2 linked regions of the Homo sapiens genome follow. The protein of the gene in region 2 purifies or fractionates together with the protein of the main gene of each other region. This does not show direct contact. Each region holds a gene or a part of one and is shown on either strand. Other genes may lie near its edges.

Region 1 (3,500 bases), on a different chromosome or scaffold from region 2:
GAGAGAGACAGTTCATATTCACTGAAAGCTTGAATCTCTGAATGTCTTGCCATAACAGAATTTCTATGCTTTCAAACACTATTATTGGTGCCACCTTCATCAAGGAACGAAATCAGCCCCTGGTAGCTTGCACTTAGTTCTCATGGAAATCAGAGAATCATTTGTATTTGTCAAACTAAAAATGAACTATTGGGAGGTATTATGAAGCACTGTTCAAATCAAAGGCCTTAAAATAGTAATAAATCACTTTGAGGGAATGTGATAAATGAGGTTGACTAGAATTCAGTTAATGAACTACCAGGGCCGTTGGCCAGGTCTCCACTAGCAGCTTCAAGGGATAATTTTTGATCTGGAAAGCCTACTTGGCATTAATCTGAACTGTTCAGGCTGGAATTTGCTGGTGGATAAGTGATCTTCATTTAGGCATGTTGACCTAGTGCTGGAGGTGTCTTGTGTGAAAAAGATAGGACTTTCTTATTAACATTAAGGTGTTATCTGTGCCAGTTCAGAAACAGGATTCAAAGGCCTTACTACATCCTTCTCTTCTTTCCAGCCTTGACTTCAAGGGTCACTAGGGGCCCACATTATGCATTTCAGCCAGGTTTTGGGGCCCAATTTTGACCTCCCTTTGGCTGTACTCTACTTAGGATAAATTCCCTGAGCCTCTTCAAGACAATCTTTGGAAGGTTCTTCAGCCACAGAGCCTTTCTTACCTGTCTGACCCATTCCACACACACTCAAATTTATCAAAAATGCAGTCATTTTCATAGAGGGAACACAGCTTGCTGCGGAGGTAGTCATGAACCTGGAGAGGAAACATATCGAGAAGGTCAGTTATTATTTTAAACAGTAATTATTTCTGCAAACACCTCCTCTTCTGATGTGAGCTGTTAAATCTTTCATTGTACATGCTCTTTGAATCAGATGGCCTTGGATCTGAACCTAGGCTTGGCCCTTTTAGCTGTAGGACATTAGGATGGGTTGATGAGCTTCTCATGTAGATGATATGGATTAATCAAGCTTGCTTGTATAGACAGTGGCATCCAGTAAGACTAAATAAGTGGTAGATTCTCATTTTCTAAGCTGATTTGCTCACAGGCATTAGAGATCACCATTCATGCAGTCTTTTATTCAACAAATATTTACTGAATACCTACTACGCACTTGAGATGCAGCAGTGAGCCAAATATCCTTGCAGTGCTTTTGACCCAGTGTCAGGTGACAGATTATATAACCAAGTAAATAAATAAGATGTTTAGATGGTGATAAAATCATAGAACAAAAGTGTATGGAAAAAGAGCCTGGGAGATCTTGTCGGGGGTGTATTATTTTATACAGGGCAAGTAGTCAGGGCTTCACTGGATGAGGTAGCACTGGAGCAGAAGCCTGCAGGAGATGAATGAGCCACAGTGATGTCTGGGTTTGGGGTGAGGGGAAGGCTCTCCAAGCATAGGAAACAGCAAACATAAAGGCCTAGAGGCAGGAATCCTGGAGGGAGTGTGGTGGGAGAGGAGTGAGTAAGCAGCTGGGGGAGAGGATGATCAGTTTACATAGGCCCTTTATTCTGAGGAAGAAGAGACCTCACAGAAAGGATTGCTGAATCTGCTGTGTTGCAATGGATCCTAAGGGTGCAAAGGCAAAGGGAGGGAGACCAGTTATAACCTGAGTGATAGATTCTGGCCTGGACCAGGGCATGAGCAGTGATGGGGACTGGTCAGATTCTCCTTTTGTTTAGGGAAAGAGCAGATAGGACTTGGGTCAACTCTGAGGTGTGGAGAGAAAAACAGGAGTCAAAGATGACTCCCTGATCTTTCTCCTGAGCAAGTGGAAGGAGTAGGTACCATGTTCACTTTTGGGTACAATGGTTTAGAGATGTCTACATGTGGAGCTGTCGAGTAGACTCTGAGGTGAAAGGTGCTGTCCTGGAGTATGTGGCGATTCTTTCCTGGTTTCTCTTTTCCAGTGAAAGCAGCCAGCATGGTTATCAACTAAGAGTGAGCAGGAGAGAGAAAGGGTTGAGAAACAGTGTCAGATTTCTGGAAGGCACCAGGGGACACTTGACGTTGTTGGACATGTATGTCAAATAAGGCTCATCAAGCATAGTTGAATATTTTTCTCCAGCTACATTCAGCAACTCAGCTGTAGATGCCAAATAGATGAATAAGGTTCAGAGAGTAGTAGCCTGGGTTCTCTGTTTTGAAGGTAATCCTTCCTGAACCCACTAGCACGGAGTGGCAATAATAACGGGCATACCCAATATGCTGGCTTGTCATTATTAGCCAGGTGCTTTATCTGTCAAAACCTCATTTCATCTCTAAAGCCATCTTATGATGTAGGTACTTTCATTCTCTTTACTTTAATGGAGCATGAAGCACAGAGATATGACATCATTTGTCCAAGATCACACAGAAAAAGTGACAGAAGGGGAGGGAACTGAGCCCCGGTATCAGGCTCTGGAGTGCACACTCTGAGCTGCACTAGCAACCTGCCTCCAGCTTGCTCTGGTGGGTCCTCAGTCCTTGACAGGAGCTGTGATAATGAACTCAAGTGAGGCTGAGAGAGAAGGAGATAGAACTGTGTGAAAGCAGAGGGAGGCTACCAAGGGCATTGGTGTTTAAGTTAAGAGTGATGATTCGATCTCTTTTTTCCTGCAACTGCGGCTCTTTCTCTTCCTTCGACTCCAACAGTTCTGCTGGATGCAGAGCTTCAGGCTCTTAGTCTTGGGCAAAGGAACGAGGTCAGGCTCATCCTATGTTCCATTAGATGTTCTGGGTATTTGAAAAGCTCTGAGTTATTTGGACAGAGGAAGTTATTTCTAACTCTGCAAATTAATTTTCCCCCACCTTTACTCTCTCACTTCCAAACAGTTCCAGGCCTTGTCAGGGTAACAGCTTCAGTGCTTTGGTGACAAGGGAATACCCCTACAGCAGTGCTCTTGGCATTGTTAGGTGCATTTGGGGGCTGCAAGGGTGAGGCTGTGTCCTGCCCTTACAGAGGCATCTCTGCTATAAACTAACTCATTCACCTTCACTAGGGGGCACAGCAGTAAAGGTATATAAACTGGGCAGTGGCAAGGTTTTTAAGGTCTAGTTCCATATGTCTGCTTTGTGATGAACCTTTCCTCATCTGTCACCATTCACCTTCGGCATTTTGTCTTATTACTCACCTGCAGTGTTTCTATAAGTGTCAAAACATGTGTGCTTTGGAAGTCACGCCCATTAGCAGGAATGACATTGCTGAGAACTCTGTAAATAATTCTTGAAAGATAGAAGTTGGGATAGATTCAAGGGAAAACCTAGTCTGAACCATTATTTCTCCACCATACCTAAGGTCTGGGTAGCTCCTATCTGCCTCCAATTGACAGCATTTAAAGAAAAAGAATGTCTACTATGAAGGTATGCTGTATTTATGTTTTGTTGCACAGAAAAAAAGTCTTCTTAGGCAAACCAGAGGGACCTTTTTCTACTAGAGGAAAGAATAAAGTGAGATGTATACATGAG
Region 2 (4,096 bases):
CCAGGAGTTGAATGCCCTCCAGTCTAGGGACTGGGGACCTGTCAGATCTCCCGAAACTCCTCTCACAACCATGCCCAGAAAGGAAATTCATGACTCAGCTCCCTGAGTTCTCTCTGCATTTTGGTTTTGTCTTTATTCTAGGTCATTTTTTATTCTTCTTGCTGGGTATCTGGAAAGATAGGTTTTGTAATATAATATAATGCCACTGTCATTTTTAGAAATGCGTTGGAAAAAATTGTGAGACAGCAAAATGCATCTAATTTTTTCTCCATTTCTCCATCCCCAAGCCACTTCTCCCAGTCAGCTTTTTGAGGGACAGCCCTCCCTCCCCCATCCCGCCTGTGCTTTATGTCAGAGCCCACTCAGACTGCCCCACCCCTGACCAAAACCTAGGTCTTAAGTGCCCTTAGGTCAGTGCTTCCGGATTCAGAGTGACCAAGGGACTGCATTTTAATTACTTTCAGGGAGCAGAACGATTTCAACCCTGGTCTCCTAGATTATAATCATCCATCCCACAGGCTGTCTGATGGCAAGAATTTTAAGCCCCATTTAAGGTGGACGCTAGAATTATTTCTGGATGGAGCAGAGTAGCACAAGCTGCTGAGCTGCAAATCACCGTGATAGTGGCTGCCCAACCCAGTAACCCACAAGGCTACCACGCCTTGTCAGTGCCACTGTGGTGTGAATTAGACCTTTTTACAGGTTACATCAATGCGGGAGAAGGAAGGGCAATGATGGGCAACAGTGCTGAAATATCTGGTGCTCAGAAACTTCCTTCCTCTTTATTCCTCTGTTAGGTCCCTGGGGAGGGGAACAATGAATGGGAAACCCTAGCACCGCCGTTAGCTAGCTTACAGTGCTATTAGGTTGGTGCAAAAGTAATTGCGGTTTTTTACTTATTAGCAAAACCACAATTACTTTGCACCAACCTAATAGTAGCTGAACAAAAGTGTTTGTTGAACTTAATTGATCTTACAAGACTGTGCCAACATGGAAGAAAAAAAGAAAAGAGCCCATCTTGGAATCAGACCTATCTTTGCTCAAAGTAAGACTCTAGAATGTACCATCTGTGCAACTTGAGGCAAGTTATTTCACCTGTCTGGGTCTCGGTTTTGCCATGAATATGAAAGCTAGTCGTGTCACTCTAGGAGAAGCGGTTTGTGTTGGTGGCAGGTGCGCCCCCTCCCAATAGGTGACAAGAACACGCACTCTCCCGTTCCTGCGTTACCTCCCCCAGGCCGCGCGGTGGCGCTGCGTCTCTGCAGCGGCCCGGGTCTCTCTAGGGCGCTCGGGCGCGCTGGCCCCTGGGGACGCCGAGGGCGGCTGCGACGCGCCGAGAGGCCGCGGTGAGTGCAGCAGCACTGGGGGGGTGGTCGTCCCGACCCCCGGGCTCCCGGGTGGGAAGGAGCAGCTGGGCTGCGCGGAGCAGGCCCCCGTGAGCCCCGGGAAGGAGCGCAGCGCAGGGTGTGGAGCCACCCTCAGCATCCGACCGCAGGCGGGGACGAGAGCCTTGGGCAGGAGCCAGGAGACCCCTTCCCTGACCCCTGACTTGCCGGGGGTCCCTGGCATCACTTCCCCGCCACCGAGCCTTGGACCAGAGGGTTTCTAAGGCCCTTTCGGTGCCGGCGTTGCGGGGTCGCGGGAGATCCGGGGGTCTGTGCTCTGATTCCCGGCCCTGCCCGTCTCTCTTACAGGCTCTCCCACCTGTCACCCTGGCCCTTCTCTGCTTGGATGGTGTCTTCCTCTCCTCAGCCGAGAATGACTTCGTCCACCGGATCCAGGAGGAACTGGACCGCTTTCTGCTGCAGAAGCAGCTGTCAAAGTAGGCTCATGTGAGGGGCGAGGGTGCCGCCTTGCTGGGAAGGGCAGGGTTCCCGAGCCGCCTGTGTGCCCTCCCCCAGGTGGTGCCTGGCAGCTGGCTCTGACCTTGGCCTTTAGTCTTTATAACGCCAGCTGCCTCTTTTAGCTGCATCTTTGTAATTGTGAGCATCACCCCCAGACTGATGGGGCCCGGCACAGGGATTGGGGATGGGACCTGTGGGTCCCTGCGATCACCTCTATCTATGCTCAGATCCTTTGCAGTCCATCTGGGACCCAGAGGGGCAGAAGGGAGCCCAGTGTTAATCCGCGATTAACCTGGGAGTGGACCTGGTAGGGGCCAGGCCCTGGACACCTGCTCAGCACTTCTTCCCCTCCCTCCCCAGGGTTCTTCTTTTCCCCCCACTCTCCAGTCGCCTCCGGTACCTGATCCATAGAACAGCAGAGAATTTTGATCTCTTGAGCAGCTTCTCCGTTGGGGAGGGCTGGAAGAGGAGGACGGTCATCTGTCACCAGGACATCAGGTGTGTAGCCTCCCACCTTGAAGTGCCTGCAGCGGTGGTGTGTGGGTGGCCAGCTAGCTGGTCAGCCTTTGGAAGGGCAGGGCTGGGGGGAACCAGGGCTGGGACCCCCGGCTGCTGCCATTCCTAGCTGCAGCTGCTCAGCCAGGGCTGCCTTTTGCATCAACAGTGGAGCAGATATGCAGTTTGTGGAATTCACTTGGCAAAATCAGCTATATGGTTGGGCCAAAAGAGAGAGAGAGATCTGTTTAAGTAGTGGGTGTGTGGCGGGGGGCCTCCCTAGCATTCCTCTCAGTGAGCTTGTGTCCCACAGAGACCAGAAAAGCACCTGCTGGGCTTCGGTCCCCTCTGTTCCCATGTGCGTCTCAGTGAGCATCTTACTTTAATGACTGTGATCCTAGTGTTTGAAGTGACATGTTTTTCTGATAGCATACTTCTTAAATGCAAGAGCTTACCTCCCCTGGTGTGTAACTGAAGATGGACTGATCTCTAATTTGGATCACAGCACTAGAGGGCAAGCTGGCTGCTCTGGGCTCATGCAAAAGTGACAGCCTCCACTGTGATGCCTTCCTAAGGGATTTTCGAGGGTCATTTTGGCTGTGGTTTTTGCCTAATGCTGACCCGAATGTCTCTCCTGAATGACAAGTGGCTCTAGTAAATCATTTTCCTTTGGGCCCCTACACACTCTGATTACCTCCTCCCATTCCTGCTCCAGGGTACCCAGTTCGGATGGCCTCTCTGGCCCCTGCCGCGCTCCTGCCTCCTGCCCCAGCAGGTACCACGGTCCTCGGCCCATCTCCAACCAAGGAGCAGCTGCGGTTCCCCGAGGTGCCCGGGCTGGCCGGTGGTATCGTGGACGCAAGCCTGACCAGCCTTTGTATGTGCCCCGGGTGCTGCGCAGGCAGGAAGAATGGGGGCTGACCTCTACCTCGGTGCTCAAGAGAGAGGCCCCAGCTGGCAGGGACCCAGAAGAGCCTGGAGATGTTGGTGCTGGAGACCCCAACTCTGATCAGGGACTCCCTGTGCTGATGACTCAGGGAACAGAGGACCTAAAGGGCCCAGGACAAAGGTGTGAGAATGAGCCACTGCTGGACCCTGTTGGCCCTGAGCCTCTGGGGCCTGAGAGTCAGTCAGGGAAGGGAGACATGGTGGAGATGGCCACACGGTTTGGGTCCACCCTGCAGCTAGACCTGGAAAAGGGGAAGGAGAGTCTGTTGGAGAAGAGGCTGGTGGCAGAGGAGGAAGAGGACGAAGAGGAGGTGGAAGAGGATGGCCCCAGCAGCTGCTCGGAGGACGATTACAGTGAGCTGCTGCAGGAGGTGATGAGGCTCTTGAGCCCGAAAAGGGAGGGCGGAGGTGAGGTGGGTGTGGCCGTGGGTGGATGGGGACCAAGGGTTATGGTGTGGAGAGCAGGGGATGTGCAAGGGGAGGTAGGGCTGGGTGTTGGGTGACAGGGATTCCTTAGGGAACTCAGGAGATGAGGTGTGGATTTGGGTCCCAGCCCAGCCATGTAGGAGCTGCTTGACCCTGGGCAAGTTATTTTGTTTGGCTGAGTCTCAGTTTCCTCATCTGAAACTAAAACCAGTTGATAATACAGCCTTCACTAGGTCATGGAGATGGACTCTGTGTGCAAGTACATCGTCTTGTGTTACGGATGCCAGTCATGGAAATTACTCTTTAGCCTGAAGTTTTATCTTATAAATCTTGTTTTCTTGGGACCGTGCGACTGCCCCTGAGACTGGCTGTGGGTTCAGTTG

The links. Proteins that work in one complex are often made in the same cells at the same time.
Region 1: the proteins of R3HCC1 (region 2) and PPP2R2B purify together in Homo sapiens (pull-down; one large-scale study listed by IntAct). This does not show direct contact.

Annotation. Positions count from the first base shown.
Region 1 is NC_000005.10:146,592,258-146,595,757, forward strand, and holds part of PPP2R2B (serine/threonine-protein phosphatase 2A 55 kDa regulatory subunit B beta isoform), read right to left. Parts: intron 806-3,500; coding exon 714-805; intron 1-713. UniProt on the Homo sapiens protein: The B regulatory subunit might modulate substrate selectivity and catalytic activity, and might also direct the localization of the catalytic enzyme to a particular subcellular compartment.
Region 2 is NC_000008.11:23,286,812-23,290,907, forward strand, and holds the start of R3HCC1 (R3H and coiled-coil domain-containing protein 1), read left to right. Parts: upstream 1-1,296; 5' UTR 1,297-1,346; intron 1,347-1,694; 5' UTR 1,695-1,712; coding exon 1,713-1,822; intron 1,823-2,204; coding exon 2,205-2,342; intron 2,343-3,054; coding exon 3,055-3,658; intron 3,659-4,096.